2 separate regions of the Homo sapiens genome follow, and region 2 is linked to region 1. The links come from fine-mapping of genetic effects on plasma protein levels. A gene starts in region 1. The other region holds a variant in brackets. All regions are shown on one strand. Distances are from middle to middle.

Region 1 (9,744 bases):
CAAAAAAGAACTCTTATACATGAAAAAGTATGGCAAAAATAAAATGTAAAAAAATCACTAGAAGAGTCTAAATACAAAAATGAGGAGACGTCCCAAAAGTGCAACAACCTTAAAATGGTAGAAAATAGGAAATAAGAGGATTGGTCCAGCAATCCTATATCAGAATAGTAGTAGTCCCAGAAAGAGATGAAATAGAAAATGGGAGGGGAGAAAATCACCAAAGAATAATTCAAGAAAATTCCCATAACTGAAGAATAAGTGTTTCTGGATTGCCAGGGCACAAAAAATGCCCAACATGCTGGATAAAATACACCAAGGCCTAGCACTGTGGATCTTGGAACACCACGGATGTATCAGTCAGGGCAGGCATTGTTAAACTACAGCAATGAGCAGCCCAAAAGCCCTCAGAGGCCTACAACAACCAAGATTTATTCTTCAAGTTTATTTCAATCGAACAGGGTCATAGCATGGGTGGGAGGGGGTTCTGCAAGCTGAGTATCATCATTGTCAAGCTGAGTTCAGAACCTAACTAGAGGGAAGGAAAACTCTGGCAGCAACTTACACTCGCAGCGAAGTGCAGGCCCAGAAGTGGAAGTAGCACTTCCGCTCAGCTCCTGGGCAGGCCACTGGCACAACAACCATGTGAGGCCATCAAGCTCAGGGAGTGAGGAAGGGAGGGCAATCCTACCAAGAGCCTGGGGGACAGGGGGCTGGACATGTGTGGCGAGCACTGACAACTAGACCCGAAAGGAAGATGCTACAATCTTCAGAAAGAGAAGGACTGGCTTGAAATTCTTCAACAATACTGGAGGCCAAAAAGGATTGGACCAATGCTTCAAAAATTCTAAAGGAACTTTTTTTCTATAATTCTACACTATCAATCTATCAGACATGAAGGCAGAAAATATACTTATGGGTAAAGTCTCAGAATTCACTTCCCATCACATCCAAACCAGGGAGTGAAACAAGAGGGAGTCAGGAAGAGGAAGTCAGGAAACAGAAGTCCTGCAGTGGGTAGGTCCAGGCTGATGTGGGTGCAGGTGGTGAGGCTGGCAGCTGACCCTCAGATGTATCCACAAGTTGCAGTAGAAGGCCCCGGGGCCCTTCTTCAGGAAGGGGTGCTGACCAAGGGGCATCCTGATGCTCATGAACATCATGGGGGAAGACGCGACAGACAACTGGCAAAGAGTTTGGAGTTGGATCTGTCATACTACATAGAAAGCAAGCAAATTAGAACACCAGCCAATTATTCGCTGGAGAAAACAAAAAGTAACCTACAACATGACTCACTAGGAACAGCATTTACATAGTCATGCTTGTAAACACTGCATGATGAGCTCCGTGAGATTATACCACATCTATATAGGAGGGTGGAGAGCATGTACAGGGGCAAAGAGAAGAAAAAAATCATCTCCCAAAGAACAAAGTCACTAGGTAATATCTACAACTGAAAAATCAGGAAGCCAGGTGATTCAATGGCACAATGATAAATACCAAAATAATCAACTAAAAGAAGTGAAATGCCTAGGGGTTGGGTGCGGTGGCTCACGCCTGCAATCCTAGCACTTTGGGAGGCTGAGGTAGGCAGATCACCTGAGGTCAGGAGTTTGAGACCAGCCTGACCAACATGGAGAAACCGTCTCTACTAAAAATACAAAATTAGCCGGGCGTGGTGGCGCATGCCTGTAATCCCAGCTACTCAGGAGGCTGAGGCAGGAGAATCGCTTGAACCCAAGAGGCCAAGGTTGCAGTGAGCCGAAATCACGCCACTGCACTCCAGCCTGGGCAACAAAAGCGAAACTCTGTATCAAAAAAAAAAAAAAAAGAAATGAAGTGCCTGCTTCTGGGGAGAGGGAAATGGTGGCAGGGGATACTGTTTGGCCCTGCAGAAGCTATTTAACTTTTTACACTATATGCATGTTAAAAAAAAATACGTTAAAGGTAATTCAAGCAGTCTGCCCAGGAGCTACCTAGTAGGTTGGCCTGATTTTTGATTCAGCACAAAGGGCAGAAACTGAGTTCTTTCAATGAGCCATTAGCACTGCTATAAATGTTTCAAGGGCTGAAACACATAAGACACAATCCCTGTCCTCAGAATCGGGATTTCATTGAGAAAAAAAAGCCAACATATGAATGGGAAAGAACTCAAGTACAATGCAAGTTAGCAGGTGGTCAACCCTAAGACATGAAGAAGAGTTATGTGGTATCAAGGAGGAGACTCAGGGCCAGAGTAGGTAACAAAGACTTTGGGAAAGATGTAAGGAGGAGAAGGAGAAAGGCTAACAGAACTTGAGTTCTGTTCCCGAAACAGGGAGGGCATTTCTGCAACGGAGGCTGGCTAACAGTGAGGGTGTATATAATTGGGAAGTATGGACAGTTTTTTCAAACAGTGGTGAGATTTTACTTGTAACAGGGAGGGCAAGATTACTAATTAGGAAAAGCAGAGATTAGAAAACACAGACATCACGGTTGAGGGACTACATTTTCAGTGTCCTTCGGTGTTATCAATCACAAGCCCTGTAACATTTTTCCCTGCAGAGTGGCTCAGACTTAGCATACCTGCTCCTTATTAACACTGCCTCCACCCTGTGTTAAACCCCTCATAGCTAAAATCAACCATGTCGTGGGCTGCACCCCAGGCCTGCCTGCCTGCTTGCCTGCTCTGGCCCCTGTCTGCCTGGGCAGCCTCATGGCTGTAATTTTGTTTTCACACTCCAACAATACCATCCTTCTTTGCATTCCTAGAATACTGCCTGCTCTTGGCTGCCGCAGGACCTCTGCACACACTGCTCCTCCTAGAACACGCTCTCTCCTATGACTTCCCTGTTAACTCCTACATAAGCCGTCCATTCTCAGCTCACTTTTGATTCCTCAACAAAACAAACGTACCTGATTGCTCTCACTCAGGAGTTCCTGGCATAGTTCTCATGCATTCCTTTTCCTCACACCAGTTTGTAATTTAACCTTCATTTCCAATTCATGCCCACCTCACCATCTTGGCCAGTGGGTCTCAAAGTGGTGTCAGGTCACAGCAACAGCATACAGAACAACCTATTAGTGATGCAGATTCTCAGGCCACATCCCAGACCAACTGAATCAGAAACTTGAGGTGGGAGACAAGCAGTCTGTGTTTTTTAAAAAAAACCCTACTGATTCTGATGCATGCTTAAGTCTGAGAATCAACGTGCTACACTATGTGGTATAGGGTCTGTACCATCACAGCACAGACCAGTTAAGTTTTAGCACCCCATGGTGTCTCCTAGTGCCAAATTCAGGGACAACAGTAAGGACTTGGTAAGATTTCCTGGTCAGATGAATGATTGGTTAAAAAACTTTCCTGCTGGGAGCGGTGGCTTACGCCTGTAATCCCAGCACTTTGGGAGGCCGAGGCAGGCGGATCACGAGGTCAGGAGATCGAGACCATCCTGGCTAACATGGTGAAACCCCGTCTCTACTAAAAATACAAAAAATTAGCCGGGCGTGGTGGCGGGTGCCTGTAGTCCCAGTTACTTGGGAGGCTGAGGCAGGAGAATGGCGTGAACCCGGGAGGTGGAGCGTGCAGTGAGCCGAGATCGCGCCCCTGCACTCCAGCCTGGGCTGAACAGAGCGAGACTCCGTCTCAAAAAAAAAAAAAAAACTTCCCATGGCTCCATAAATCCCCTACTTTATTAATTCTAAACCCTTGCAGCGACTATAGAATACCCCCAAAATAAACATTGAAACTGCTGTTCGAAGACCTGGGTTCTAGCTCCTGCTCCCAGGCCTTTCTGGGTTCAAATTTTGGCCCTCCTTCTCTTACTATCTGTGTGATCATCCATAAATTTCCTAATCTCTCTTGGCCTTAACTTCCTCACCTCTAAAATAGGAATCATTATAGTACCGATTTCCCAGGGTTGCTCAATGATTGAGACAATGGCACTAAGAATCATGACTCACACAGTTAAGCACTCAACAAATGTAGGTAGTATTACTGCCATAATAATAGTTATTCAACTTTAAATGGTCTTTCCTCTTGGGTCTCAGCTTTCTTACTCAAGATTGACCACACACACACTTTAGACTAGTTCTTCCTCCCTTGCAAAACTACACACATCTAACACCCATCCGACGCCTGAAACCTCCCCTAGCAACCCGGAGTCCTGCTGGGGTTTTCCAGCTCCACCTCCTGAACAGCTGGGCTGTAGCACACAGGCTGGATCTACTCATACTTGCCTTCCTAGAGCTCAACTGAAGTCACTTCAGACAAGTGAAGTACCCACTCACCTCTGGAATCAGATCTTGGTAACGCCAACAGGTTAGCAGGTGATTTCATTTCAGTGTGTGTCTGGGTGGCTAGCATTCAAACGCAGCTCACACTGGGAGCTATTTCTAGTCCAATTTTGCTACTTGGTAACGTATTAATAGCATCAATTAAAACATTCCCAACGAATAGATCTTTAAAAGGACGGTTTCTGACTTCCCTAACAAGCAGAGGGCCGACCACCTGCCTGCGAAGTGCCCCTCCTGCCCTGTCTCCAGGCAGCATGCTGTGAGCGATGACAGAAACTGGACCCGCGCACAGAGAAGCTGCAGGCACGCCCTGCCCGGCCACCCAGCTGCCTGCCTGCTTCGCCCGGCCGCCGAGCCCCGGGGGAAAACCTAGAATGGGGATGCCGGTGCGCCCCGACACCTGGGCACGGCCGCGGGCCGGGGAGCCGCCCACACTTGGCTCCCCAAGAGTTAAACGCTGAGTAATTTTCCTGAGGAGCAAACAGTCGGAGCGGGGGCTCTGCCAATGGCCACAGTATTTTTATCCGACTTAACCGACACCGCGGCGCGACCTCGGCTGTCCCCAAGGGTATCCCCACGCGGCACGCTCCGGAGTCCCCGACCGGGACCCTCGCCGGCTCCCAGCGCGACATGGACGACAGCGCCGCCGCCGAGTCCCCCGCGCCCGGGCAGGAGGCAGAGACCTGGGGCCGCCCGAGGACTGCTAGGGGCCCCTCCGCCCGGGGTCCGCGCCCGGGCCTAAGCGGTAGGGGGTGTGCGCCCAAGTTGGCCCGCTTTGCTGCAAGAGTGGAAAGGGGTGGGAGCAGAAAGCGCCGGCCCCGCCCGGGGCGGGGAGCAACGCGGGGCTGCAGGGCCGCCTCGGGGCCCCGAACCACCGCCGCCCGGCCCACCGCGGCGCCGGGGAATGAATGGGGCTCCCCAGCTGGCAGCGGGCGCGCACTCACAGGCGACGTAGGCCAGCAAGGCGATGCCCAGCAGCAGCTTCATCCTCCTGCGGTTGACGGCAGACACGAGGCGCAGCAGCGCCTTGCTCACCATCCCCGGGAGCCGCGCGGGTCCAGGGCCCTACCGCGCGGGGGCCCGCCTGCTGCACAATGCGCGGCGGCGGCGGCGGCAGCGGCCCCGAGAGCCCCGCCTCCTGCCGCCGCGCGCCCCCGCCCCCGCGCGCCTGCTTCCTGCTGGCGGGATCACCGCGCAGGCGCGCCTCCACCCCCTTCCTCCGGCTCCGCCCCCGCCCCTCCGGCTTCTCTACCCGCAGGCGCAGTTGCCGCCTTTCTTGCCTTGGTTTTCGAAGAATGTGACCTGGAGGGCTGGTGGGCGGTGCGGCGCGCCGCGGCGCATGCGCGTTCCGGTCTGTTTTCCCTGAGTTAAAGCGCGCGGGTGCCAGCCGGGAGGTGCGGCTGGATTCGTTTCGCTGAGGTGCGTCCCCAACCCAAGGGCACGACTGCAGTGGCCAGTTTCCGAGCCCCGCCCGGAGGGGGGCACGCGGTGGGCATTCCGGTGTTGCAGTGAAACGAAACTTATTTGCTAAACTTGGCCGAGCCTTAGAAGTTGAATGCCTGCCTCAGAAAGTTGCCTCGTTCTCTGGGCTGTTTAGTTGGCTTTTTTTAGTTAGAATATCGGCAGCGAAAATGATAAATCCCCTAAACCTTGCCGAAGTAAAAACTGGCTGCGTTTTTTTTCCTTGGCTATGATCAACTGGGGTGCCTTTGTTTTAATAATAGTCTTTTATTATTATTTTAAAAAGCAGTGCTAAGTATATTAATTTAGGATAGACTTGGAAAAGAAAAGATGAAATTGCGCTGTCTCTGCCTAGAGAAAAACCCTGACCATGTTGTCGTGTGTGTTTCATTCAATCTTTTTGTTGAGTATATCTGTTTTATGAGTGCTGTACTGATTGCATAGGAGGTACCTGTGTTTAAAAAGCATTTACTGAATGATGATTACAAGCAAGGAGATGTATCAGAAGATCCACAGATAATCGGAAGCTTGTCATTGGATCTGGAGAGAGCTGGTCCCATGGAGGAAAAAAAGACAGGTACACACAGATGTGTGTGATGCCACATTAAGAGAGATCCCGGATTTGGGATCTGCAGGCTTCAAGAGGTCATCTTCAGCTATACGGAGAAGTTGAAGTCAGCAGCGGCTCTCCTACCTCTTGGAACCTCAGGCCATTTTGCAAAACTTAATAGATCACCCTCCTTTAGATTTATTAGAAACCTCCAAGAAAAGGAAATATGGCAGCTGGTACTAAAGCAGCAGCTTTATGTTACATCTTTCAAACTATAGTGCAAATGATGTGATTCTGATAAAACCTACCTCCATCCTACCCCTCCCCTAAACCTGTTGAGAATCCCTGACTAGGAGGAAACACTGAGCGGTTTGCTAAGGCGGATTGCCCCTGCTATGCATGCTGCCCATAGATGGAGTGGACTTCTTTCGAGAAGCCCAGCTCCCTGACTCTGACGTGTCCAAGGAGGCTGCCAAGTGACAAAACACCTGGCATGGGAGCCTGAGTCCTGGGTTCCCAGAGGGGCCAGGCCCCCAGAGCACACCAGTTTGGAACAAATCGATTTTGTTTGTAAGTCTGCATTTCCTCGTGGCTTTCTGGCTATGGTTTTTGAAAAGAGAACTAGAGCAAGTGGAGCTCTAGGCCTTTCCCATTCCATGACTCCGTGGTTTTTAGATTAAAGATGAGGAGCAGAAATGGAAGAAAATAATAGTTCATTAACATTTGACCTATGGGCAAAATCAGACTGAAGCTTCTAGGCGGATTTCAAGCATTTTAGGTTTTAGGTAGGGTTTAGTTGATAGGTATCCTATTAGACGACAAAGGTCAGAAATTGTGGGGTATTTGCCATTTCTGTACTAAACTCCTTAAGCCCAGCATTCCCAGTTAGCATTTTTTTCTGCTGCTGGACACTACTGCCAACTTCTGCCCTGTGGGATTAAGTATATGGAAATACCGTTAGCAGCTGCAGTTGAAATAGCTGCTGCTGTCATTATTGCCACCCAGAAGGCGGTTGGTGTCCCAGGACACTGGTGTCTTGCTCAGCCGCAGCCAGAATTAAAAAGTAAGCAATAGTAAGTGTGCACCCAGTGGAGGTAAGAAGGCCTGAGGGAGGGAGATGCCAAAGAGACCCTCCAAGCTCCTCCGGGGATCTTGGGCGTAGGCAGCACCATTTCCCTGTGCTCCTTGCCTCTCTTGTTTCTTCCCAGACCCCCTTGTTTCTTCCCAGCCCATCCCCACTTCCCCCGCAGGTTCTGGGCTCATCCCTCCCTGCTCCCTCCCCTTACTGTCAACCCCCTCATATTTCCAGTGGATAGGTTAACAACAATATTTTTGAGCGATTACATATTTTTGAACAAGTTACAAAGGTAGTGTTTTTGACACTCAGGGTAATTAAAAAATGAATTGTAATATGACTTCTAAAGTGTTTAAAGCCTAAGGAGTGGAGAAAATTAACATTTATAAACCTCTACAATGTGCCAGGGACTGTTATGCAATGCACTTTCATTGTTACCTCATTGATATGGTTTGGCTCTATGTCCCCACCCAAATTGTAATCCCCACATGTCAAGGGAAGGACCTGATGAGAGGTGATTGGATCATGGAGGTGGTTTTCCCTATGCTGTTCTCATGATGGTAAGGGAGTTCTCATGACAGCCAATGGCATTTTTTTTTTTGAGACGGGGTCTCACTCTGTTGCCCAGGCTGGAGTGCAATGGCACAATCTCAGCTTACTGCAACCTCTGCCTCCCGGGTTCAAGTGATCATCCTGCCTCAGCCTCCCAAGTAGCTGGGATTACAGGCGCCCGCCACCACGCCTGGCTAATTTTTGTATTTTTAGTAGAGATGGGGTTTCACCATGTTGGTCAGGCTGGTCTTGAACTCCTGACCTCAGGTAATCCACCCGCCTTGGCCTCCCAATGTGCTGGGATTACAGGTGTGAGCCACCACACCCGGCCGGTTTTAAAAGTGTTTGGAAGTTTCTCCTTCACGGCATTTCTCTCCTCTCCCCTGCCGCCATATGAGGAAGGTCCTTGCTTCCCCTTCACCCTCTGCCATGATTGTAAGTTTCCTGAGGCCTCCCCAGCCATGCGGAACTGTGAGTCCATTAAACCTCTTTCCTTTATAAATTAGCTAGTCTCCAGCAGTTCTTTATAGCAGTGTGAAAACTACTAACACACTCATTTAATTCTTGCAACAGCCCTGTGGGGCAGGGTTGCCATTGTTGCTGCTCTTTAAAAAAAAAAAAAAAAAAAAAAATTTTAAATTAATTTTTAAATCAACAAAAATTGTATATATTTATGATGTATCATATGAGGTTTTAATATATGTATAGATGGTGGAATAGCTAAAACTAGTTTGCTTCCACCTTTTGGGTATTGTGAATAATGCTGCTGTGAACACAGGTGTACAAATATCTCTTTAAGACCCCACTTTCAGTTCTTTTGGGTACATTACCCAGAAGTGGAATTTTTGGCTCATAAGGTAGTTGTGTGTTTAATTTTTTTGGGAACTTCTATACGGTCTTCCTTAAGGGCTGTACTGATTTACATTGCTGCTGTCATTAATAGATGAGGAAACTGAGGCTCTGAACATTTGATAAGTGTCCCAACACTTGGTAGGTGGCAGGGTTACCAGTTACTTGGCTTGGTAAGTAACAGGGTTACCAGTCACAGAGCTGGGAGTGTAGGGCTGGAATTTTAAGCCATGATTTTCCCTGTGTGAGGATGCTTTTCTGGAGTTGAGTGCAGACTTGCACAGAAATGACTATCACTCATAGCAAAATGTGGTGAGTGGTCACTGTGGGACAGGGTCGCATGAATGGCTAAGGAATTTCACAACAGGAAGGTATGCTTCCAGGTCATGGACTGTGGTTTGCCATGCCGGGACCAGCTGACAGGCTCACAAGAGCTGACAGTTAGCAACTGTTCCTCTGGGATTATTTGCACCATGGAAATAACGCAATTGCTACATACCAGGGATTCTTTTTTTTTTTTTTTCTTTTAACTAGCATACTTCTGCTTGCAGATGAGAACAGTGAGAGAGAGAAAGCTTTGCAGAGCAGGACCTACGTGAGCTGAATTTGAAAGGATGTAGTATAGGATTTGGACTCATACATCTTGGGCAGGGGCATCCCTAAGGAAATAGCAAAGGCAAGGATGCTGGGGAGTGAAAGGTTGCCATAGGAAATAGTGGGGATCTCTGGCAGGAGGAGCAGAGAACAAGAAACGAAGGTATATTGGCCAGGCGTGGTGGCTCACACCTGCAATCCCAACACTTTGGGAGGCTGAGGCAGGTGGATCATCTGAGGTCAGGAGTTCGAGACCAGCCTGGCCAACATGGTGAAACCCCATCTCTACTAAAAATACAAAAATTAGCTGGGCATGGTGGTGGGCACCTGTAATCCCAGTTGCTAGGGAGGCTGAGGCAGGAGAATCACTTGAATCTGGGAGGCAGAGGTTGCA
Region 2 (9,744 bases), 37 kb after region 1:
CTGGGGATGTAAATTTACAACTTCTTTGGATAAATATCAAGGAGCTTGGTTACTAGATTGTATAGTAAGAGTATGCTTAGTTTTGTAAGAAACAGCCAAACTCTTCCAAAGTAATGGTGTTGTTTTGCTTTTCCACCAGCAATGAGTGAGAATTCCTGTTGCTCCACATTCTCACCAGCATTTGATGTTGTCAGTGTTCTGGATTTTAGCCATTCTAATTGGTGTTTAGTGATATGTAATTGTTGTTTTAATTTCCAATTCCCTGGTGACATATGATGTTGAGCATCTTTTCATACAATTATTTGCCATTCGTATATCTACTTTGGTGAGATATCTATTCAGATCTCTTGCTTGTTAATTAGATCATTAATTTTATTATTATTGACTGTTAAGAATTCTTTATATAATTTGGAGTAAACAGCCTACAGAATGGGAGAAACTATTCACAAACTACACATCTGACAAAGGTCTACCATCCAGAATCTATAAGGAATGTAAACAAATCAACAAGCGAAAAAGACATTTCTCAAAAGAAGACATATAAGTGCCCAAGAAACATGAAAAGATGCTCAACATACTAATTCATCAGAGAAATGCCAATCAAAACCACAATGAAAAATCATCTCACACTAGTAAGAATGGCTATTATTACAAAGTCAAAAAACAACAGATGCCAGCAAGACTGGAGAAAAGAGAATGCTTATATACTGTTGGTGGGAATGTAAATTAGCTCAGCCACTGTGGAAAGCAATTTGGAGATTTCTCAAATAACTTAAAACAGAACTAGCATTCAACCCAGAAATCCCATTATTAGGTATATATCCAAAAGAAAAATTGTTCTACCAAAAAGACACATGGACTCACATGTTCATCACAGCACTATTCACAATAGCAAAGACATAGAATCAACTTAGGTGCCCATCAATGGTGGATTTGATAAAGAATACATGGTACAGATATACCATGGAATACTATGCAGCCATAAAAAGGAACAAAATCCTATGCTCTGCAACAGCATGGATGCAGCTGCAGTCCATCATCCTAAGTGAATAAACCCAGGAACAGAAAATCAGATGCCACATGTTCTCACTTGTAAGTGGGAGCTAAACACTGGGTACTCATGGACATAAAGATGGCAACAATAGACACTGGGGACTAGTAAAGGGGGGAGGATGGGAGGTGGCAAGGGTTGAAAAACTATTGGGTACTATGCTTGACACCTGAGTGACAGGATCATTCATACCCCAAACCTGAGCATCACACAATATACCCAGGTAGCAAACCTGCACAAATATCCCCTGAATCAAAACTAAAAGTTGCAAAAAAAAAGAAAAGAAAAAAGAGTTATTTGTATATTTCGGATAACAGTCCTTTATCATATATATCTTTGTAAATATTTTCTCTCAGCCTGTGGCTTGTCTTCTCATTCTCTTAATAATGTCTTTCACAGAACACGAATTGTTATTTTTAGCGAAGTCCCACTATTGATTTTTCTTTTACGGATATTGCTTTTGGTTTCATATCTAAAAAGTCACAGCCAAACCCATGATTACCTAGATTTTCTTCTATGTTATATTTTTAAAGTTTTATGGTTTTTCATTTTACGTGAAGTCAATGATTCATTTTGAGTTAATTTTTGTAAAAGGTTTAAGGTCTATGTCTAGATTTTTATTACTATATATATATATATATATATTTTTTTTTTTTTTTTTTTTTGAGACAGAGTCCCACTCTGTCACCCAGGCTGGAGTGCAATGGTGCAATCTTGGCTCACTGCAACCTCCGCCGTCTGGATTCGAGCAATTCTCCTGCCTCAGCCTCCCTAGTAGCTGGGATTACAGGTGTCCACCACTATGCCCAGCTAATTTTTTATAGTTTTAGTAAAGACAGGGTTTCACCATGTTGGCCAGGATGGTCTGGAACTCCTGACCTCATGATCCACCTGCCTCGGCCTCCCAAAGTGCTGGAATTACAGGCATGAGGATTTTTATTATTCTTTGAGATGGGGTCTTGCTCTGCCACCCAAGCTGTAGTGCAGTGATGCAATCATGGCTTATTGCAGCCTCGGCCTCCCAGGTTCAAGCCATCCTCCCACTTCAGCTTCCCAAGTAGCTGAGACTACAGGCACTTGCGGCCACACCCAGCCAATTTTTTAATTTTTTGTAGAGAGGGGGGTCTCTCTATGTTGTACAGGCTGGTCTTGACCTCCTGAGTTCAAGTGATTCTCCCATCTCCGCCTCCCAAAGCATTGGGATTACAGGTGTGAGCCACCATGCCTGGCTAGATTTTTTTAAATGTAGGTGTCCAATCATTCCAGCATCATTTGTTTCTGTATTAAATTGTCTTTGCTCCTTTGCAAATATCAGTTGACTATACCTGTGGGCATCTGTTTTTAGGCTTTCAATTCTATTCGATTGGCCTATTCATCTAATCTTCTGCTAATACCACATTGTCCTGATTGTTCTAGCGTTATGTTCTCACTTATAAGTGAGTAAGTCTTGAAATCAGATGGTGTCAGTACTCTGACTTCATTCTCCTTTAATACCGTGTTGGCTATTCTGGGTATTTTGCCTCTTTATATAAACTTTAGAATCAATTTGTTAATATCCACAAAACAACTTGCTGAGATTTTTATTAGGATTGCATTTGATCTACAGATTAAGTTGGGAATAACTGACATCCTAACGATATTGGATCTACCTATTTATGAACATGGAATACTTCTCTATTCAAATCTTTTTTTTTTTTATCAGTTTTGTAGTTTTCCCCATATATATCTTGTATTTTTTCAAGATTTATTTTTAAGTACTTCTTTTTTGTGGAATTGTGTTTTACATTTTAAATTTTAATTGTTCATTGGTGTTATATAGAAAGCAATTGACTTTTGTATATATCTTTTGTATATAACCTTGTAATCTGCATCCTTACTGTAATCACTTAACAGTTCCAGAAGTACTTTTGTCAGTACTCTGGGATTTTCTACATAGACAATCATGTCATCTGTGAAGAAACAGGTTTTTTGTTCTTCTTAATCAATACACCTTTATTTCCTCTTTTTATCTTATTTTTCTAGCTAAAACTTCCAGTACAGTGCTGAATAGGAGTGGGGAGAGGGGATACATTTCCTTTGTTCTAATCTTAGGGTGAAAGCATCTGGTTTCTCATCAAGTATGATGATAGCTTTAGGGTTTTTTATTTTTTAGTTTTTTGAGACAGAGTTTTGCTCTGTCGCCCAGGCTGGAGTGCAGTGACACAATCTCAGCTCACTGCAACCTCTGCCTCCTGGGTTCAAGTGATTCTCCAGCCTCAGCCTCCCAAGTAGCTGGGATTACAGGCGCCTACCACCACTCCCAGCTAATTATTTGTAGTTTTAGTAGACACGGGGTTTTGCCATGTTGGCCAGGCTGGTCTCGAACTCCTGATCTCAAGTGATCTGCCTGCCTTGGCCTCCCGAAGTGCTGGAATTACAGGTGTGGGCCATTGCGCCAGGCCATCTTTAGGGTTTTTATAGTTGCTTTTTACCAAGTTGACCATGTTCCCCCCATTCCTGATTTGCTGACAGCTATCATAAATGGGTATTGGATTTTGTCAAATATCTTTTCTGCATCTATTGATATAATCATGACTTTCATTGTTATTCTGTTGATGTAATTAGTTAGATTAACTGATTTCCAAATGTTAACACAGGCTTGTATATCTGGAATAAGTCCCACTTGGTCATGGTGTATATATCTTTTTTCAAACTTTGTTAGGTTTGTTACTACCATTTTGTTGAGGATTTTTTCTTCTGTGTTCATGAAAGACATTAGTTTGTAGTTTTCTTTTTATGTAATGTGTTTATCTGTTTTTGGCATTAGGGTAATGTTGGCCTCATAGAATGAGTTAAGAGGTGTTTCTTCTGCTTCTATTTTCTGGAAGAGATTATAGAGAACTGGTACAATTTTTTACTTAAATGTTTGATAAAATGTAACAGTGACACCAGCTGCACCTGGTACTTTCTGTTCTAGAAGATTATTAATTAGTGATTCAATTTTTAAAATAAATGTAGACTTTTCAGATCATCCTTGGATGATTCTTTCAAGAAATTAGTCTATTTTACCTAGGTTATCCAATTTATAGGCATAGAGTTGTTCAAAATATTCCTTTATTATTCTTTAAAAGTCATTTAAACATTCATGAGGTCAGTAGTGATCACTCCTCTTTTATTCTGATATTAGTCATTTGTGTCTTTATTCTTTTTTCTTGATTAGCCTGACTAAAGATTTATCAATTTTATTAATATCTTTAATGAAAATGTTTCATACATTGTATGATTTCTATTTTATTCTATTCTTTTATATTTGTGGAAGTGTGTTTTATGGCCCAGAATATGGTCTACCTTGGGGAATATTTCATGTGAGCTGGAGGAGAATATGTAACCTGCTCTTGGATGAAGAAGTCTCTAGATGTCAATTAGATTCATTTAATTGATGGTGCTGCTCAGTTGAACTATATCCTTACTGATTTTATGCCTGCTGGATCTGTCCATTTCTGAGAGGGATGGGGAAGCCTCCACCTGTTATAACGGATTCATCTACTTCCCCTTGCAGTTATATTTTGATGCTTTGTTGTTACTCAAATACACATTAAAGACTGTTGTGTCTTCTAAGTGAAGTGATCACTTTATCATTATCTAAGGTCCCTCTTTAAATAGTTTTTCTTTTTCTGAAATCTTTTTGTCCAAAATTAATGTATCTGCTCCAGCTTTCTTTTTATTTGTATTAGCATGGTATATTTTTGCTTTTACTTTTTAAATAATAAAGCATGTGACCTTATTTTATTAGGAAAATTTACAAATGTAAAGTTGACCGAAAAGCATGAGGAGCACACATGTACCCGTCACCCAGCTTTAACAATTATGAACTGTGACCAATCATTTCCTCTGACTATTCCCACCCACTTTCTTCCCTCTCCTATTATTTTGAAGCTAATCTCATATATATCATTTCATTTGTAAATACTTTTGTATCTTTAAATAAGGATTCTCAATAACCATGACAACTAAAAATATCAATAATAATTCTTTAATATTATAAACTATTTTCACCAGGATCAAATTTTTAATTGTTTCATTAATATCATAATTTTTATATTTTATTTTTCTATTTTTACTGTGGTAAAATATATATAACCTATTATCTTTTTATTTTTTTATTTTTTTTTTATTTTTTGAGATGGAGTCTCACTCTGTCACCCAGGCTGGAGTGCAATGGCACAATCTCTGTTCACTGCAACCTCTGCTTCCCAGGTTCTAGAGAGTCTCCTGCCTCCGCCTCCCGAGTAGTTGGGATTACAGGCATCCACCACCACGCCAGTTAATTTTTGTATTTTTAGTAGAGA[C/T]GGGGTTTCACCATGTTGGCCAGGCTGATGTCAAACTCCTGACCTCAAATGATGGGCCTGCCTTGGCCTCCCAAAGTGCTGGCATTACAGGCATGAGCCACCACACCCAGGCAATTGTTTATTTTAACCATTTGTAATTGAATAGCATTAAACACAATCACAATATGGTATAACTATCGCCATTGTCTATACTTGAAACTTTTTCATAGTCCCTAAACTTTGTGCCCATTAGCTAATAATCCCCTCCTCTTCCCTCTTCCCAGCCCCTAACATCTAGTTTACTCTCTGTGTCTAAATTTGCCCACTTAAAATACCTCATCTAAGAAGAATCATACAAGATTTGTCCTGTGTCTGGTTTATTTTACAAAGCATAATGTTTTCAAAAGTTCATTCAGTATATAGCATATGTCAAACTTCAATTCCTCTTTATGGCTGAATAGTGTAACTGCATGTATATACCACATTTTGCTCAAACATTCATCTGTCGATGGATACTTTGATTGTTTCCAACTTCTGGCTATTGTAAACAATGTTTCTATCAACATTAGTGTACAGATACCTTTTTTTTCCTTTTTTTTTTTGTTTTTTTTGAGACAGAGTCTACCTCTGTCACGCAGGCTGGAGTGCAGTAGTGCAATCTTGGCTTACTGCAACCCCCACCTCCCCAGTCCAAGTGACTCTCCTGCTTCAGCCTCCTGAGTAGCTGGGACTACAGCTACTGCACCACCATGCCCAGCTAATTTTTATATTTTAGTAGAGAAGGTGTTTTGCCATGTTGGCCAGGCTGGTCCCAAATTCCTGGCCTCAAGCGATATGCCTGCCTTGGCCTCCCAAAGTGCTGGGATTACAGGTGTGAGCCACCACACCCAGCCAGTGCACAGATATCTACTCTCAGACCTGTTTTTAGTTCTTTTGGATATCTACCTAGAGTGGAATATGGTAGTTCTATATCTATCTATTTGATAAACCAACAAATATTTTCACAGCAGCTTCACCATTTTACATTCCCACCAGCAATAGATGACAGTTCCAATTTCTCCACATCCTTTCCAAAACACAAATTTTCTTTATTTTTTAAATTATATCTATCTTCGTGCAGGTGAAGTGGCATCTCACAGAGCATTAGAGTTGCATTTCCCTAATGACTGATGATGTTAAGCATCTTTTCCTGTGTGTCCTCCCTGCTGGAACACAAATTTTTTTTTTTTTTTTTTTTTTTGAGACTGAGTTTCTCTCTTGTTGCCCAGGTTGGAGTGCAATGGCTCCATCTCAGCTCACTGCAACCTCTGCCTCCTGGGTTCAAGTGATTCTCCTGCCTCAGCCTGCCAAGTAGCTGGGATTACAGGCATGCGCTACCACGCCTAGCTAATTTTGTATTTTTAATTAGAGATGGGGTTTCTCCATGTTGGTCAGGCTGGCCTTGAACTCCCGACCTCAGGTGATCCACCCACCTAGGCCCCCCAAAGTGCTGGGATTACAGGCATGAGCCACCGTGCCCAGCCTTAGAACACAAAATTTTAACAGCTATCTGTACACAGAAAAGCACAATCACAAGAACCAAATATCAGGTGAGCAATCATGGAAAGAGGCATCGAGGAAGGCAGGAGAGTTATTCTCGACTCGCTGACACCACCCCACCCCACCCCTAGCAGCAGCTGTGCAGAGGCAGAGTGAGAGAGAGAATCTGTGCACATTGGGGAGGGAGAGCACAGCAACTGGAGGACTTTACATTGAACTCAGTGCCCTCCTGTCATGGTGGAAAATAAAGCCTTGCCAGGCTCAGCCAGTGCCTGTGCACAGAGGGAGCATGTGGACCAGCCATAGCCAGAGAGGAGTCATCCATCCCAGCAGTTAGAGCTTGCGTTTGTCAGCAAGCCTTGCCACCATGTGCTGGCTTGAAAGGCAGACTAGGACACAAGGACTACAATCCCTAGGCAACTCCTAGTGCTAGGCTGGGCTTAGAGCCAGTGAACTAGGGTGGCATGTGGCCTAGAGAGACACCAGCTGACATGGCTAAGGGAGGACCTGCACCATCCCTCCCCCAACCCTAGGCAGTGCAGCTTATAGCAATAAAAGTGACCCTTTCCTTCTGCTTAAAGAAAGGGGAGCAAAAAGTAAAGAGGACTTTGTCTTGCATCCTGAATACCAGCTCAGCCACAGTAGGATAGGGCACCAGGCACAATTGTGAGGACCCCTTTCCAGGTCCTAGCTCCCAGATAACATTTGTAGACACACCCTGGGCCAAAAGGAAACCTACTTCCTTGAAGGGAAGAACCTATTCCTGGCAGGATTCATCACTTGCTGAATAAAGAGCCCTTGGGCCCTGAATAACCATTAGTGATACAGGGAAGTACACTGTGCATCTTGGGCTCTGAGTTGCACTAGCTTCAGGGGAGAGCCAGCATTTTCCAAGCTGTGGTGGCTATGGTGAAAGACTCCTTCAGTTTGAGAAAAACAGAGGGAAAAGTAAAGGGGAGTTTGTCTTGCACCCTAGGTACCAGCTTGGCCATACTGGAGTAGAGCAACAAGCAGGCTCTTGGGATCCCTAAGTCCAGGCCTAAGTTCTTGTACAGCATTGCTAGAGTGGGCCTGGGACAGAGGGGAGCACACCGACCTGATGGGTGAGTCCCAGGTCTGGCAGCATGCATCGTGTGCTGATGGAAGAGCCTTGGGCTTTAAGCAAACATTGATGATTTGCTTAACCAGTGGTGGTGGTGGCTACAGGGAGGGGCTTCTCTGCCTATGAAATGAGGAGACTAAAGTGGGAAGGACTTTGTATTGTGGCTTGAATGCCAGCTTAACCTCAGTAGAATAGAACATCAGGTAAATTGCTAAGATTTTTTACTCCAATCCCTGGCTCCCAGATAGCATCTCTGGACATGCCCAGGGTTTGGGGGAACTTGCCACCCTGAAGGGAAGGGTCTTAGGCAAGGTCCAGTGCTGCAATGGCTTCATGTCTGACCCGGTGCAGTCTCAGTAGTGGTGATCACAGGAGTGCTTGCATCACCACACCTTCAGTTCTAGGTGGCTCAGCACAGAGAGACTCTGCATGTTTGGGACAAAAAAAAGGAAAAAGAATGAGTCTCTGCCTGATAATCCAGATAATTCTGGATCTCATCCAAGACCACCAACGCAATACTTCTATTCTACTAGTCTACAAAAACAACAGCATCATAGGGCTGGAGGCCCAAGGCCCTTCAAATAGCTAGAAAGCCTTCCCAAGAAGGATAGGCACAAACAAGCCCAGACTGTGAAGACTACAATAAATACCCAACTCTTCAATGCCCAGACAGCAAAGAACATCTACAAGCCTCAACACCATCCAGAAACATGACCCTACTAAATGAACTACATAAGGCACCAGGGACCAATCTGGAGAAATAGAGATATATGACCTTTGAGATAGAGAATTCAAAACAGCCATTTTGAGAAAACTAAAACAAATTCAAGATAACAAAGAGAAAGAATTCAGAATTCTATGATATAAATTTAACAAAGAGATTCAAATAATTTAAAATAAGCATAAACTCTAGAGTAGAAAAATATAATTGGCATTCTAAAGGATGCATCAGAGTTTCTTAAAAGCAGAATTGATGAATCAGAAGATAGAATTAGTGAGCTTGAAGACAGGAAGACAGGCTATTTGAAAATACACAGTCAGAGGAGACACAAGAAAAAAGTAAAAAAACACAATGAAGCACATCTATAAGATCTAGAAAAGAGCCTCAAAAGGACAAATCTAAGAGTTGTTGGCCTTAAAGAGGAGGCAGAGATAAAGATAAGGTTAGTTTATTCAAAAGGATAATATCAGAGAACTTCCCAAACCTAGAGAAATATCTCAATATTCAAGTACAATAAGGTTATAGAACACCAAGCTGATGTAACCCAAAGAAGACTACCTCAAGACATTTAATAATCAAACTCCCAAAGGTCAAAGATAAAGAATCCTAAAAACAGCAAGAGAAGGCCGGGTGCAGTGGCTCATGCCTGTAATCCCAGCACTTTGGCAGGCAAAGGCGGGTGGATCACGAGGTCAGGAGATCGAGATCATCCTGGCTAACACGGTGAAACCCTGTCTCTACTAAAAATACAAAAAATTAGCCAGGCATGGTGGTGGGTAGCTGTAGTCCCAGCTACTCGGGTATCAGGGGAACCCACCCCCAATATTTCAATGTAGGTTCTTTCTATTTTCCATAAGTGTTGGCTGGCTAAGAAATAAAGAGAAAGAATACAAAGAGAGGAATTTTACAGCTGGGCCTCTGGGGGTGACATTACATATTGGTAGGACCATGATACCCTCCTGAGCCGCAAAACCAGAGGGTTTTTATTAAGGGTTTCAAAAGGGGAGGGGGTGCAAGAACAGGG

Which allele goes with the higher level. Positions count from the first base shown, and alleles are read on the strand shown. Strength reflects both the effect of a copy and how common the allele is.
For the plasma level of the protein whose gene starts at base 5,367 in region 1, allele C in region 2 goes with a lower level than allele T (weak association).

The links. A credible set is the group of variants that fine-mapping cannot tell apart. PIP is the posterior inclusion probability: the model's chance that the variant is causal. Protein levels are from antibody-based Olink assays in UK Biobank. Linkage for the fine-mapping came from a reference panel and not from the study's own genotypes, which makes the PIPs less certain.
Region 2: its variant is the best candidate, but not a certain one, in a credible set for the plasma level of the UXS1 protein (UK Biobank, PIP 0.64).

What each region holds. Positions count from the first base shown.
Region 1 is chr2:106,188,935-106,198,678 of GRCh38, forward strand. It overlaps UXS1 (UDP-glucuronate decarboxylase 1), which reads right to left and starts at 5,367. Exons shown (of 15, transcript NM_001253875.2): 1 at 5,214-5,367. The coding sequence starts at 5,307. RefSeq lists an enhancer at 4,460-4,509 and a silencer at 4,840-5,449.
Region 2 is chr2:106,225,490-106,235,233 of GRCh38, forward strand. No RefSeq gene overlaps it. Among named protein-coding and RNA genes, the nearest start is that of UXS1, 36 kb to the left of the region's middle. The variant C/T (reference allele first, on the strand shown) is at 5,380.